Regions from separate parts of the Homo sapiens genome. Here region 2 is linked to region 1. The links come from fine-mapping of genetic effects on gene expression. Tissue or cell type: blood mononuclear cells. Region 1 holds a variant in brackets; the other region holds the start of a gene. All regions are shown on one strand. Distances are from middle to middle.

Region 1 (8,179 bases):
GCTCTGAAGTCAAGTGGATCCTATACAAACCAGAAAGACAAAGGAATATGAGGAGACCTCATCAGGATGGAAATCACAATTTTAAGGCAGATACATGTTTTTGGAAGATCAACCTTATGCAATATTGAGTTCATGAAAATGAGGAGGTCTAAAAGTAGGGTGACCAACCATCCTGGTTTGACAAAGACTGATAGATATTTCCTGGGGTGCAGGACCTTCAGTGCTAAGACTGGGGAAGTTTCAGAAAATGCACTGATAGTGGAAATCTAAAGTATACTCAGAAATATGTTGATCGTCTTATCTAAAAGATGGTGACAGATTGTGGTAGCTAGTCTCCAAAGACGGTTCCCCAATAAATTATACCTTCCTGAATCTGTGACTTTGTGTAATCCTATCCCCTTGAATCTGGGTTGACCTGTAGCTTTTATTTTTTTTGAGATAGGGTCTCAGTCTGTCACCCAGACTGGAGTGCAGTGGCATGATCATGGCTTACTGAAACCTCAACTTCCCTGGGCTCAGGAGATTCTCCCACCGCAGCCTCCCAAGTAGCTGAGACCACAGAGGTGTGCCAACATGCCCAGCTAATTTTTGTATTCTTTTGTAGAGACGGGGTTTCACCATGTTGCCCGGGCTGGTCTCGAACTCCTGGGCTCAAGCGATCCACCCTTCTTGGCCTCCCAAAGTGTTGGCGTTACAGGTGTGTGCTACCATGCCCCACCGTGTGGCTTATTTTTGACCAACAGAATATGACGGAAGCCATCTTGGTGTGAAATCTCAGACTAGGTCATTAGAAACCTTACAGCTTCCACCTGGGTATCTTGGCATATTTACTCTGAGGGAAGCCAGCTGCCATCTAAGTTCAACTACTTTAAAATCACCAAGCTCAAACTAAGCATATGGGGAGCCTGTGTGCAAAGAGCGAGATGCCTGTGCAGCCGCCAGCTGTCCCAGCTGTCCCAGCTGAAGCACCAGATGTATTAGTAAAGAAGCCATGTGGGACGTCCAGCCTTCAGAAGACGGCAGCCACGCGAGAGACTCCGAGTGCAAATCACCCAGCTGAATCCAGTCAGTCCACACAATTATGATAAAAAATAGTGGAATATCTGTAATCCCAGCACTTTGGGAGGCCGAGGCGGGTGGATCACGAGGTCAGGAGATCGAGATCATCCTGGCTAACACGGTGAAACCCCGTCTCTACTAAAAATACAAAAAATTAGCCGGGTGTGGTGGCGGGCACCTGTAGTCCCAGCTACTCGGGAGGCTGAGGCAGGAGAATGGCGTGAACCCAGGAGGCAGAGCTTGCAGTGAGCTGAGATTGCACCACTGCACTGCAGCGTGGGAAACGGAGTGAGACTCCATCTCAAAAAAAAAAAAGTGGAATATTATTTTAAGCCACTAATTTTTTCCTTAAAAAAGCTGTGGTAAGCTCATGCTGAAGGCCTATTTCCTAACCTACACTGGAGACTTCTTCCTTACTCCTGTGCCTAGGGGAATGTGCCCAAGCTCTGGGCAGAGTGCCCCGTGCTCATGCAGGTAGACGTTCCCGCTTCCCACTGCAAAGCCCACTAAGCAGCACGATGTCCTGCTCTTTTAGTTATCCAGGCACCAGAAGCCCAAAGGGGCAGCAGAAAAATACTGACAATAGAGGTAAGTCCGTTCTGGGTAATTCAGTTCATAAAGCTCGCTTTGGAGGATTTCATTTCTCCATGTTAAATACAATATGTTTTTCTTTTGAGACACCTCTTTTCGGCAGGAAAATCCTGCCATCATCATTTCCCATTTGAGTTCCGTGAGCTTCTACCTAGAGGCAAAATGGAAATGGGAATTTTATAATGAAAGAAGCAGACGGGGAGAGGAATCTGCCGTCTTCTTAACAAGCCAGTAAGAGGCACTGAAAATCTCAGAGAGCTGCCAATGACAAGCATGCTCATTCTCAGCGCAGCTGCTCTTTTACAAATCGTGGTAACATAAACAATGTAAAATCACCATTAACCGTTTCCAGAACATTTTCATCTTCCCAAACTGAAACTCTGTACCTTTTAAACAATAACTGCCCTTTCCTCTCTCCCCGAGTCCCTGGCCACCCCAGTCTACTTTCTATCTCTGTGAGTTTGATTCTCTTTGGTACCCTATAAAATGGAATCATAGAGTATTTGTCCTTTTGTGCCTGGCTTACTTCACTTAGCATAGTGTCCTCAAGGTCCATCCATGTTGTAGCACGTGGCGGGACTTCCTTCCTTGTTAAGGCTGAATCATATTTCATTGTATGGATGGACTACATTTTGGTTATCCACTCATCTATGGTTGGACATTGGGTTGCTTCTGCCTATTGGCTGTTGTGAATAATGCTGCTGGGAGGATGAAATGTGCAAATATCTCTTCAAGACCCTGCTTTCAATTCAAGCCACTGAATGTTGAGGTGGTTTGTTACATAGCAATTGGCAACCGGATGTTGAGTCACGATTACAGCATGCCACCAACATGGTACAAGGATGATGATCACTGAAGGAGAGAAGTGTGTTGTCCATGTGAGTGCATGAGGTCCAGCTGGAGAGATTATTACCTGACTTAGTGTCACTAGGATCTCTGCTTTGGAGTGGAAGCTCTCACTTTCCTGCGTGCCCAGGAGAAAGCATAAGGCAGGCAGGCTGTAGAGTAGCAGCCATTTAAAAATTGCACTCATAACTGTGTAACAACAAAAGAAAAGATTATTCTGGATTTGCATTCAGATTGGGCAGACTGCTAGTGTTTCTTCCACCAGGATGGTCTGAGAGCCAAGCTTGGAAAATCAGAAGCGATTGGGTCATCCAGTGCAGGACAGTTTAGCACCATGAATGGCTAATTAAGCTTGGATTCCATCACAAACTAGAGGGGATACATTTTCTTCTGTTGAAATTAATCAGGGCCGAGGAAGGAAAAAAAGAAACCATGGCCGCCTTTTTGAAACAAATCCAACAAACACGTCAGAGGGAAGCTCCACGCTGCACATGGTGATCTGGAAGTAAAGCAGGTGAGCCCTGCCCTCCTGAAGCTGGACCCTGGCACTGGTGATGAGGATAAGAGGTTTCCCAGCTGTTTAAAAGAAAACAGTGTGTCAGCCGGGCATGGTGGCTCCCGCCTGTAATCCCAGCACTTTGGGAGGCCGAGGCGGGCAGATCACTTGAGGTCAGGAGTTCGAGACCAGCCTGGCCAACATGGTGAAACCCCATCTCTACTAAAAACACAAAAATTAACCAGGCGTGGTGGTGTGCGCCTGTAATCCCAGCTACTCGGGAGGCCGAGGCAGGAGAATCACAGGTGAACCCAGGAGGCAGAGGTTGCAGTGAGCCAAGATCGTACCACTGCACTCCAGCCTGGGAGACAAGAGTGAAACTCCGTCTCACAAACAAAAAACAAACAAACAAAAAAAACCCCACAAAAAAAAGTGTATCAATACAAAAAATTTGAGGTATACTAAGGCCAACGGAGAGGATTAGGAGATAGTTTCACACAGTTCCCAAGAGGAAGGTGTGCACCACACCACAGGGCCGCACAGGGAAGCAGGAGGCAGAGCGAGAGGGGGGCTGTGGACAAGAGCCTTTTTTTGTGATTTCCTTGGGAAGAAACAGGAAGGCAAAGTAAACAGACTCGGGATTGGCCAGTTTGCTAATTTCAGCAGGCTCTGGGGTATAGGGGCTGTCCCTAATTGTCTGGTACCTGACTTTGGGTGATTAGGGAAAGTGGATAGTGGCCCAGCATGTGAGAGACCAATAAAGGAGGTGGTTGGGGTGTGGGCTCTGGATTGGTTGGTTTGTATTTGAAAAGTGCGCCCCTGGGAGGAGGAGGACTCCCGAGGAATGGGGGGTGGCACAGAGGAGGCGACAAGGGAGGCCTGAGGCTGAAGCAAAGCATACTGTTGGGTTTTCCAGATCAAGGAATGTTTGGTGTATGCA[T/A]GTAGGACAGATATTAAAACATCGACTTTATAGACGCCAGAAACATGGTCAATACATTGGCCCTGTGACACTTTAACATCAAACTAAGGCACCTTTGCAGCAATGATGGATGAGACTTAGAAAGAAGGCCATCATTTGCCCTAAATAGTACAGAAAATATTTTTTATGAGAGTTGAAAGGAGGAACAAAAATTGAAGTATAAGGAGTCCTTGTAGGCCAGCCTGTATCTAAGTTTCCCATTCACATGGCATTAGCAGACGAAATAGATTTGAAATTTCCAGGGTCTCTACCAATATCTTGGTGGATTGCAGAGTATGTTAAAAGTATGAGAAATATATATATATCTCAAAAAAATTGGACAATAATATCTTGGTGTATTTCTCAGGTCATGGTGGCAAGTCCTGCAGTTATCTTGTTGGAGGGTATTATCTGAGAAGTCAGTAAAGTACATGTAAAGACTGGTGATATTTGTGTGTAACCAAGGGGATGGGGTGGTTGTGGTCGTTACAGTTGGGGACAGGGCAGGAGGTCCTGGTGGAAAGCTGGAGCATACAGTAGAAGTCACTAGGGAGTGTATGACCCTCTCCCCAGGGTCCAGAGGATTCACTGGCCTGCAGCAGCTGCCTCTTGGGGAAAATAATACTCTTCGTCAATTTTAGAATGGCATTGAGAGTAGTAGCTTCTACCAGGTTTTCCTTTAGGTGTGGAGGGGACGGTGCATGTTTTGGCAGAGAGCAAGGAACATACCAGGATCATGGGCCAAGCAGACAGTAAATTCAGGAAACACAATAGAGTTCCTAATTCAAAAGAAGAAAAGCAACAAATGTCCATGTCCATTTTGTCAGCACCTTGAGAGTGTCACTGGGTTGGAGGCTTTAGTGTCCAGGTGATGTATCTCTAATAGCGATGTCTTGGGCTAGGGTGATGTTGTCTAAGGTGATGTCATCTCCAGCTGCGAGCTTCTGAGGAATGTCATCTGGGATGTGGGTCTGAGGTACCCTGTGCAACTGCAGAAAGTTGGATGTGATTAAGATCTTGTCTGCAAAGATAGTGTGCAATGGCAAAGCTGTTGAGGTCCCCATGGGTAGCCTAGAAAAGGTAAATTGTGACCCGTTAGAGGTGAAGGCAAACTGTGCTGAAAGGTTGTTGAAGGAGGCAATGAACAGAACACAGCAGCCAAATCTGTAATAATAAAATACCAGTCATTGACTGGGTGGTGCCGATTATTTTAATAATACTGAATATTGCATATGGGGCTTTTCTTTTTGCCAGGAACTTCCAGTTTTTATTTTTTTAAACATCATTTAACAAGAAAAACATTCAACCAAATTAAAAAAAATTAGGTTGGATTATTTTACAATAAAATAATCAACTTGAAATATCAGCCCCTCCATTTAGGGCCAAGGAGGCCAATAGTTCCTGTTTAAACAGCAGAATTGCGCAATTATTTTTACCTATATTTGATGACACACAAAAATAAAAGTCTTAAAATTTCCACGGACACCCTCCCCTCCCTCCAGAGTAGAGTTCATACAATTGCATCTTAGATCAGTACTCAGGCTTTTAAAAATCATCTTCCATTTTGAAATATAATACAACTACTCTGGTAACAAGAATACTTTTAAAACAATTCTTATAGAAAACAAATACCTTAAATCATTGTGTGGCACATAAGACTGCTCAAAGAAACAGCAAAAATGAAAAATAATGTACAAGAATTATAGTCCTTTGTTTATAGAAACCATCCAAATAAAATATTTTCCCTAATTTTCCTTGCTTCTTATAGTTTATTAGCAGAGATGAATTACAAGAAGCAGAATGCACCATATTTTGGTTCTTGGTTGTAGCTGCCAGCTTAGGAGTTCATGACTATAAATATCAAGCAAATATGATTTTACTCACAAGTTCTGGAATGGGAAAAAAACCCAGATATCTCTAAAGTGTTTCTCTATCCTTGCTTTCAAGTCATGACAAAAAAATTCACAGCAGTTTAAAGGATGGTGAAAGACGAAACATGGGCCCATTAAAATAGAGATTAATTTTACGTATTACACTCCTATAGTAAAAACTGTAATAAGTATGATATTGTATTAAGTAACATTCTATAGTAAGCTGGTGGAGCAAATACAGCATTTAACAGGTTCATTTACAGACCAGGCATAGTAGCCTTTAGAGAGAACATCTTATTTTCACAGTCTTGAACATGTAACCTTTACAAAAAACCAAACGGAATATGTAATTTATGACAGCTGGCCAGGCACTTAATTTTGGGAAACAGAAGGATTTTGAGGTAAACTAGAATTATTTTTAGCAATCACAAACATAGCCTATAAACCACATTTACACCACACTGAAGTTATTGAGCTTTTAACTATAAGTTTGTCACTCCTTTGTGCCAAAATACACACCTAGGTGTAACTTTTTTTTTTTTGAGACGAGTCTCACTCTGTCACCCAGGCTGGAGTGCAGTGGAGTGATCTCCACTCACTGCAACCTCCACCTCCTGGGTTCAAGTGAATCCCTGCCTCAGCCTCTCAATTAGCTGGGACTACAGGCACGGGCCACCACCATGCCCAGCTAACTGTAACTTCTTAAGAAGCTATTCAAAGAACATGGTCAAGTCTGAATTTTGGTCTCGCATATGGGGCTCTTTATGCATGGAACCACAGATTAGAGTTGCGGTAATCCACCATCAGGCACCATTTTTTTTTTCTGTTTCCCCAAATTTTGACAAAATTGGATTGTCAAATGGAGAAGCAGTAAAGATAATCCTTCTATTAATTAGGTTTTATATAGTCAGGTTTTTACTGATACGTAGTAGGTGTACATATTTTGGGGGTAATGTGATACTTTGGTACATTCATATAATGTATAATAATCAAATCAGGGTAATTGGGATATCCTCACCTTAAACATTTATCTTTTCTTTATGCTGAAAACATTCAAATTATTCTCGAAGTTGAAGCTGTTTTGAAATATACAATAGATTATTGTTTTCTATAGTCACTCAACTCATTTATGGAACACTAAATCTTATTTCTTCTTTTTTTTTTCTTTTAGAGATGAGGTCTCCCTATGTTGCCCAGGCTGGTCTTGAACTCCTGAGCTCAAGCAATCTTCCCACTTGGGCCTCCCAAAATGCTGAGATTACAGGCATGAGCCACCATGCCCAGCCTTCTTTCTTTAAAAGAAATTTCTTTATGTATGTATGTATGTATGTATGTATGTATGTATGTATGTATCTATCTATCTATCTATCTATCTATCTATCTATCTATTGTTAGAGATAGGGCCTCACTCTGTTACCCAGGCTGGGGTGCACTGGCATGATCATAGCTCGCCTCAACCTCTCGAGCTCAAGCAATCCTCCCACCCAGCCTCCGAAGTAGCTGGGACTACAGGCGTGCGCCACCATGCTCAGCTAATTTTTTAATATTTTTTGTAGAGATGGGGTCTCGCTATGTTGCCCAGGCTGTTTAAAGCTACATTCCTTCTGAAATTGATTTTTGTGGATAGTTTAGGATATGTTTTAAGATTTTCTTTTTGCATATGGCTATCTAATTGATCTATCAGGATTAATTTCTTAAATATATTTTTAATCACTAATCTATAGTATTTCCTTTGTCACAGATATGTGTCCACACGTGTGTGGGTCTGTTTTTAGGCTCTGTTCTTTTCTATTGGTCTATTTTCTATTCTTGTTTCAACATTACTCCTTTAATTCTTGTAGCTTTATATTAAGTCTTTACATCTGTAAGTGAATTTCTTTTATTTAGTTCTTTCTTCTTAAGAATGTCTTGGCTTTTCTTGGTCCTTTTCACCTCATTTAAATTTTAGATCAGATTTTCAATTTTCATATCTAAAACTCTGTGGGGAGTTTGACTTATTTAGTGTTAATTTTTAATTGGATGTCAGAATGCTCCCTTTCTCTGTTTCCGATTTTTATTATTATAATTATGATGTTTCACAGATGATAGCAGGATTACAAAATATCAGAAAGCAGGGACTCACAGCTTGCTTAGTTAGGTAATTGCCGTTTTCAATGTTCAAATTGCGAATTTGGTGGCATAAGGTTGTTACTTTAGATTGTAATTGGAAAACTTTGGGGCAGGACTCTAGGACTTACTTTTGACCCTCATTCCACCCCTTCCCTGCTCTTCATTGTTCTAAAAAATGGGGAAACAGGTTGATTGAACACATACTATTTAACTTTCATGAAAGCAGGAATATGTTTGTCTTGGTCACTA
Region 2 (8,179 bases), 38 kb after region 1:
CCAAATTTCTTTATGAGCATGTGTGACAAAGCTTTAATCAGACCACAGACTGTTTTGTGTTCTGCTTTTTTTTGAGACAGGGTCTTGTTCTGCCACCTGGGCTGGGGTACAACGGCGTGATCATAGCTCACTGCAGCTTCAAAGTTCCAGACTCAAGTGATCCTGCCACCTCAGCCTCCTGAGTAGCTGGGACTACAGGCATGCGCCATCAGGCCCAGCTAATTTATTTTTATTTTTATAGAGACAAGGTCTCACCATGTTGCCCAGGCTGGTCTCCAACTCCTGGGCTCAAGCAATCCTCCCACCTCAGCCTCCCAAAGTGTTAGGATTACAGGCATGAGCCACCATGCCTGGCCATGTTCTGCTTTTAAGGCATGACTTCATTTGTGCACCTCCGTACAGCGATATGGCCTATGGAGCTGCCATGGTTAATGTTTGTGTCCTTCACTGATCTCCACTCCAGTCACGGAGAGAGCAGCCCAGGAGAAAATGACACTGTCTAGTTCTTAGGTGGGTCATACATTCTTCTTGGGGGCTGTCTTAGTCCATTTGTGCTGCTATAAGGGAACATCATAAAATGGGTAACTTATAAACAACAGACTTTTCTTTCTCACAGTTGTGGAGGCTGGGAAGTCCAAGATCAAGGCACTGGCAGATTCAGTGTCTGGGGAGGGGCCGCTTTCTTGTTCATTAGATGGCATCTTCTCCCTCTGTCCTCATATAGAAGGAGGGGAAAGGCAGCTCTCTGAGGCTTCCTTTATAAGTGCATGAATCCCATTTCTAACCTCCCAAATGCCCTACCTCCTCATACCATCACATTGGTGATTGCATTTCAATACATGAGCTTTGGGGGAACACAAACATTCAGACCATAGCAGGGGCCATTATTATTATTATTATTATTTTATTATTATTTTTGAGATGGAGCCTCACTCTGTTGCCCAGGCTGGAATGCAGTGGCACCATCTCGGCTCAGTGCAACTGCCGCCTCCCGGGTTCAAGCAATTCTCCTGCCTCAGCCTCCTGAGTAGCTGGGATTACAGGCATGCGCCACCACACCCGGTTAACTTTTGTATTTTTCGTAGAGACAGAGTTTCACCATGTTGGCCAGACTGGTCTCGAACTCCTGACCTCAAGTGATCCACCCGCTTTGGCCTCCCAAAGTGCTGGGACTACAGGCATGAGCCACCGTGTGTGGCCCACAGGCCATTAATTTTCTCCATTGCAGCCATTGGTGCCAGTTTCCACTCTGCTGTCTGAGGGCAGTTTCAATCTGTAAGCCAACACCAGTTGATTTGTAGCAGCTGCCTAGAACCCTGTGCTGACAGGAACTGTGAGGTCAAGTTCAGGTTCAGCAGGAGGGCGGCCTCTGATTTAGCACAGTTGTCTGCAATAGATACATTTCCCTGCAGTCTGCTCCTAACTGTAAAGAGATGATGTTAAACAACTCCAGGGCAGTGCTAGGATCCTAATGAACATAACCTGATCACTCCCTGTGTTTCTGAGTCAGACAGCTGTCTCCTTTCACCAATACGGCCTGTATATGGTTATGATACATTTACAAGCACAGAAGTTTATGGACACTGTCATTGTGTTTTGGATTTGCACCCTGACCCAGGCATTAATTTATTTAAAAGAATATTTTAACATTGTCAAAGAGTTGAGCATCTTTAAATTGTTTCTTTCTCTGTTTTTTTTTTTTGTTGTTGTTTTTGTTTGTTTTTTTGAGACAGAGTCTCACTCTGTTGCCAGGCTGGAGTGCAGTGGCAAGATCTTGGCTCACTGTAACCTCCACCTCCCGGGTTCAAGTGATTCTCCTGCCTCAGCCTCCCAAGTAGCTGGGACTACAGGCGCATGCCACCACACCCAGCTAGTTTTTGTATTTTTAGTAGAGACAGGGTTTCACCATGTTGGCCAGGATGGTCTCGATCTCTTGACCTCGTGATCCACCCGCTTTGGCTTCCCAAAGTGCTGGGATTACAGGCATGAGCCACAGCACCCGGCCAATTCTGTTTCTGTTCTTTCTAACTTTATTGCATTATGGCCCGGAAATGGGATGTGTAAAATTTTTGTCCTTTTATATTTACTAAGTCTATATTTTTTTGTTTTCAGAATATGATCAAAGATATTTCTATTTCTTTGCAAGTCTATTAGCTCAGATTTTTCAAAATTATGTTACTATTTTGGGTATACATATAGATATGTTTTGTTTCATGTGCTTTTTTTTTTTTTTAACCATTTCTGGCTTTTCCATCTTGCACTTTTCCTTCCATACCCTGTGCTCTAGATTCTATGATCTAATATCTGTTTGTCAGTTAAGACTGCTTTCAGCTCTAGAGACCAGAAAATCTGACAGACAGAGTGTGAATAAGCAAGGGAAGGAGATGAGGCTGAAGAGGCAGGCTCAGGCCAATGTGTAAGCTTTTATTCCATCACAGTGAGAAGCCAGTGGTAGGGTCTAAATGGGGCTGTGGGGGTATATTATGTTTTTCATGTTTTTAAGAGATCACTCTGGATGCTGAGTGGAGAATGGACTGTGGGAGGGCAAGAGAGGCAGCAAGGAGAAGGTTTGGAGGCAGTCTTGGGCAGCAGGCCAGTAAGTGACGAAGGTGGCTGAAACTGGCTGTAGAAACGCAGAGAGCAAGAAGAGGCTGCAATCAGGATGCGTGCTGCAGGCAGGGCCACAAGACTTACTGTGGGATTGCATGGCGGGTGAGAAGGGAAGAAGTCAGGGGTGAGTCCTTGTACTAGAGTCATCTGGATACTCCGCTCAGGGAAGAGGCGCCACATCTAGGGGTTATCAGCAGCCAGAGAGGAGGACTTAAAGCTGCAAGACTCTGTGGGGTCTCTCTTGAGAAGAGGGCAGTTTATATCTCTCAATACATTTTTCAGCTGATATTTACATAGATAGAATTTATTTTGCATCTTCAAAATATGCAACATTTTAAACTAAATGGTTTGCTGGAAAAGCTTCACGGTGCTTCCAAATACAATTGGTAGACCATCAGGATCACACCAGTCACTTTGTGGAGTTTTGGAATGTCGACAAAGGAGAGGTACATCCGTGATGTTTCAGTCTTGGGCCACTGCTACCACACACAAAGCAACTGTCTGGTGACAATTACATTAAATATGAGGTGACCAAGAAGCAATGCTTTAAGCCTTTTACATCTTAACATGTTATTAGTAGCTGTTATTTATAAAACATCTAGCTGCCATATTGTGATCTAGGAAATTAGTAGGGTTTTTTTTAATTAACTTGCCACGCCTTATAATTCTGCTGTTTAAAATAATGGGAAACAGGTTCTCATTAGGTTTTTCCTTGGAAAGAAAATGTGACATTTCAGTCATAGATTACATTTTGACTTTTTTTTTTTTTTTGAGACAGAGTCTCACTCTGTCGCCCAGCCTAGAAGTGCAGTGGCGAGATCTTGACTCACTGCAACCTCTGCCTCCCAGGTTCGAGTGATTCTTCTGCCTCAGCCTCTTGAGTAGCTGGGATTACAGGCATGCGCCACCACACCCTGTTAATTTTTGTATTTTTAGTAGAAAGCGTTTCACCATGTTGGCCAGGGTGGTCTTGAACTCCTGACCTCAGGCGATCTGCTCGCCTCGGCCTCCCAAATTGCTGGGACTACAGGCGTGAGCCACAGCACTCAGCCAGATTACCGATGTTTTTAGTGGCAGATGACTTTCCGGCCTTGTCTTAGTTTTAATTTTTTTTTTTGAGATGGGGTCTTACTATATTGTCCAGGGTGGTCGTGAACTTCTGAGTTCAAGTGATCCTCCCACCTCAGCCTCCCAAAGTGCTGGGACTACAGGCGTGAGCCACTGTGCTCGGCCAGATTACTGATGTTTATAATGGCAGATGACTTTCCAGCCTTGTCTTAGTTTTATTTTTATTTTTGGAGATGGGGTCTCACTATATTGCCCAGGCTGGTCTTGAACTCCTAAGCTCAAGTGATCCTCCCACCTCAGCCTCCCAAAGTGCTGGGATTACAGGCATGACCCACTGTGACTGGCTTAGTTTTAAATTCTTAATTATTTACCTTGTAAACTACTTAATTCCATTTCTTCCACATCTCATAGAAAAACTGATGTTCCAGGAAGATGTATCACCAATATTCTGCTGTTTTGTATCCTGCCAGTGCAGAATTGGGGCTGTGCCTCTCTAGTTTGAGAAGCATGTAGTAACATACTTGATTTTGCCCTGATCAGTAACGTACCGCATGCTGGGAGCCGCAGTCTCTTAACCGCTCCAAGCCCGTGACAGAAAAACGAAATGGAAAAATGACTTAGGAGAATTATCACTATTAACCCCCAGAAACAACACATTATTAAAAGCGGTTCTGAAGGGCTATTTAAAAGGGAACTCAATAGTAGTTTCAAAGGAGTCCTATTGTAAGGCAAAAATTGTGCTTTACCTTCCCGCACAACCTTCCCTAATGTTTTGGGAAGGACTGATACAAACTTTTAGTCCTGTTGGCCTGTGTTAATAATGGCCAAGAGGTCCCCAATGGGTAACAGAGTCCTGTGAACCAAACAGTGTGAGAAGTCAGAAAGCAGCTGGGTGTGGCCCCCAAAGCAGCTTAGGGGGTTACTTAACTGTGCGGCTACATTTCTTGACCATATACTAAAGGAACTGGGCCTTTCCATGCGATGTTTTCCTTTTATAACGGTGGCAGGAAGCGGTCCCTCTGAGGGGCCTGACCGAGGTATGCGCCGGCGCCAGGCTGGGGTCCAAGGGGCGCTCCGAGGCGGGGCCCACAGAGAGGGTTTAGGGCAATTCCAAGGGATGGCGGGGACGGAGGAAAAGTGGCGTTGAAAAGGCAAGAGCCAGGTTCCCAGCCACTGGGACAGTGAATTTACAGCTTCAGACATCCACCAAAGAGCGGCTGCGTGGGCTCCTAAGAAGTCTAAGAACTGCTCAGAAATCCAGCGCCGCCATCCCCACTCCACCGCCGCCAGGGGCGCACAGCAGCGGGTATGCGGCCGGAGGGAAGGGGCGGGGCGGGAGGAAGGGGCGGGGCGTGCCCCGCCAGCGGAGGCCGGGAGGACCAGGAACCCAGGAGAGCATGGCCACGCTGCGCCGGCTTCGGGAGGCGCCGCGGCACTTACTGGTTTGCGAGAAATCCAACTTCGGCAACCACAAGTCGCGCCACCGGCATCTTGTGCAGACGCACTACTATAACTACAGGGTGAGTCCGGCTGTCCTCGGCTTTTCGGGCCGTGCTCAGTCCCCGCGTGCGAGAGAGGTTTGGGGAGAGTGCTAGGCTTCGCGGGGCGGGGCCGCCGGCGGTACGCGGAGGGGCGGGGCCCTCGCCCGGCTTGCTGGGAGTTGTAGTCTCTTAACTGCTCTAAGCCAGTGGCTTGCAGGGCTACAGGACTACAACTCCCAGGATGCGCCGGGCGTGGGGGCGGTACCCAGTCTGGAGGGAGCTGTTGTCAGGGGCGTTCTGGCTGCTCACTCGTGTCAACCCGCCGAACTGGGAGTGAGTCCAGGGAGGGATTCGAGGTTCAGGGCCGGGACCAGGGAGTTAGGCTGTGGGGCAGCCACGTGCACCTCGCTTTTTCCCCAAATCAGGGCGGGTCTCGCGCCTCCTCCCCACCACTGCCTCCTCCCCAGCTTGAATCCCTCTCCCACCTGCGTACCTGTGGATCTCACCAGAGCATCCTGCCTAGGCTCGGCCCAGGAAGCGACTGATTTTCCTTTTTTTTTTTTTTTTTTTTTTAGACGGAGTTTCGCTCTGTCGCCCAGGCTGGAGTGCAGTGGCGCGATCTCGGCTCACTGCAGGCTCCGCCTCCCGGGTTCACGCCATTCTCCTGCCTCAGCCTCCCGTGTAGCTGGGTCTACAGGCGCGCGCCACCACGCCCGGCTAATTTTTGTATTTTTAGTAGAGACGAGGTTTCACCGTGTTAGCCAGGATGGTCTCGATCTCCTGACCTCGTGATCCGCCCGTCTCGGCCTCCCAAAGTGCTGGGATTACAGGCGTGAGCCACCGCGCCCGGCCGAAGCGACTGATTTTCTAAATTGGTTGTTGGAACTAATTTGATATCTGAGAGACTTCAAGAAACTAACCTTATCATGGGGGATTAAACATTTTACACTTTAAATGGATCAGCTTAATAACTCAGGTTTGACTGAGCAGTGTTTCAGAGATGTTAAGTGGTGACCTGATCAGTCAGAACAGGCTGGTGTTTGAGCCTTGGGACAGTGATGACTTTTACAATGTGGCAACATTTGAAGCCTGCCCTGTTTTTAACACCTATTTTGGATGTCAAGCTCATCACAGCAGTCAGGGATGTATACTTTAACTCGCCTGTTGCATTTTTCTGTCTCGAAAATGAAAACATACAGGAGCACCATTGCTTGCACATAGATTCTTAGTAATTGGATGTCCATAAATTAATTCCTTATGCCCCGACAGATAGTTTGTTTCATTCCAGGATAACACCAGGGTAAACAAATCAAGGGATATTCAATTATACTATATTTCCTTGAAAATAAAATAGTGAAAGGAACAGGACATAAAATATACAGCATTGCTAATTTGCAAAAGATTAAATGCAAGCACGAGTTTTCCATTAAAAGTATTCTGTTCAATCCCCTTCCTGTACTGTACGTTTGAATGCAGAAATGAAAAACTTAAGTAGTCAGATTTCTCTTTGCCTGAGATAGGTAAGTTAACATAAGAGTTTTGTTGCCCGTGTTTTTATGTTCCAGTGAAACTCGTGGAGAAATAACAACTTTCATGATTTTGTTTCATTCCTAAAAACCTGGGTGTTCATCTTCATGGAAGTAAGACCTTGTTTGTATTACACATTCCAATAGGTTTCATTTCTCATTCCTGAATGTGGGATACTATCGGAAGAACTGAAAAACCTGGTCATGAACACTGGACCCTATTACTTTGTGAAGAATTTACCTCTTCATGAATTAATTACACCTGAATTCATCAGTACCTTTATAAAGAAAGGTAAGAAAAACCTGAAATGGCTGTGAACAAGGCTGGATGAGGAAGGGTAGGGAGACCACATCACGATGCTAGGGCTGTTGTTTTGTTTCAAACAGGGCCTGTGGTATAGTCTGTGTGGTCAGGTGCACACGCGTTCTCCCCCGCATTCTCATCCTGTTCTTTCTTGTACCCTCTTTAGGTGGTGGTTTCTGATTGCAATTGGCCACAAGTGTTGGATGGGGATGTTGTAACATGACAGTATCCGTCCCCTTAAAATGAGGATTAATGGAGAGGAGAGACTTGCAGTCTGTGTTCAGATGCACTGCTGTTGAAGATGTGGCTGCAAAGACACTATGCTGTCAGCAGTCCCACAGCAGCTGTCTCAGAGGGTTGGTCTCCCGATACAGCCACAGCTACTGTTCACAGAGCAAAGTGCTTGTTGGGGTCCAGTGTCTTCTGCTTAGATTTTGTAGCCATAACCCCTCCTCTACTCACCCCATTTCCACCCATATCTGCTGGGTTGGACTGGTTTGTTTCAGTTGATTCCTGGGAGCCATTTGTTTGAAACTATTTCAGAGGGCCTTTAGGGATTCCACCCACACTACATAACTCACCTGTACAGTGGCCACATGCTTATCTTGTGGTAGCCCCCATGTGTGTCCTCTCCAGTGAAGATATGAAGAACTCTAGTTACCAGTAGCTCCTCTCATTCTGACACTGCTGGGGCGACTTATGAGCTGGGCATCTTGTCTGGTCTCATCACCGTTATTCCTTTCATCTATTTCAAGGCCTGACACCACTCTGTGAATTACGTGGACAATGGCTGTAGCAGGCACTGTTAAATGTCTTACCAAATTTAACCCTTGCAACAACTTTATGAAGCAAGCCTATGATCCTCATTTAACAGTGAGGAAACTGAGGCTTGGAGAGGTTGGGTAGCTTTTGAATCTTAACCTGGAACTCTGTCTCTGAGAGGTGTATGTTTATCTAGAATTCTACTTTGGACCCCTCTCCGCGCATCCCCAAAGGTCACGTTCCGTTCTGAGTCAGTTTTTTGCTTGATGATAGTAAACTTGCACAAATAGGCTGTTGGTCAGGGAGTGAACTAGCTGGAGCTTGGTCTTCTGCAAGCTTGGTCTTCTGCATGCTTGGTCTTCTGCATGCTTGGTCTTCTGCATGCTTGTTCTTCTGCATGCTTGGTCTTCTGCATGCTTGGTCTTCTG

Evidence for each region. PIP is the estimated chance that this variant, and not a neighbour inherited with it, causes the effect.
Region 2: it holds the start of RPP40, and the variant in region 1 is fine-mapped to the expression of RPP40 in blood mononuclear cells (TOPMed, PIP 0.99).

Annotation. Positions count from the first base shown.
Region 1 is chr6:5,039,348-5,047,526 of GRCh38, reverse strand. All of the region lies in intron 2 of LYRM4-AS1 (LYRM4 antisense RNA 1), which reads right to left. It also overlaps a transcript of LYRM4 not described here. Among named protein-coding and RNA genes, the nearest start is that of RPP40, 39 kb to the right of the region's middle. RefSeq lists an enhancer at 1,706-2,905. The variant T/A (reference allele first, on the strand shown) is at 3,933.
Region 2 is chr6:5,000,899-5,009,077 of GRCh38, reverse strand. It overlaps RPP40 (ribonuclease P/MRP subunit p40), which reads left to right and starts at 5,041. Exons shown (of 8, transcript NM_006638.4): 1 at 5,041-5,198; 2 at 6,833-6,977. The coding sequence starts at 5,076. LYRM4-AS1 (LYRM4 antisense RNA 1) reads right to left here and starts at 5,262. Exons shown (of 4, transcript NR_126015.1): 1 at 5,119-5,262. RefSeq lists silencers at 1,317-1,517, 4,931-5,060, 5,191-5,440.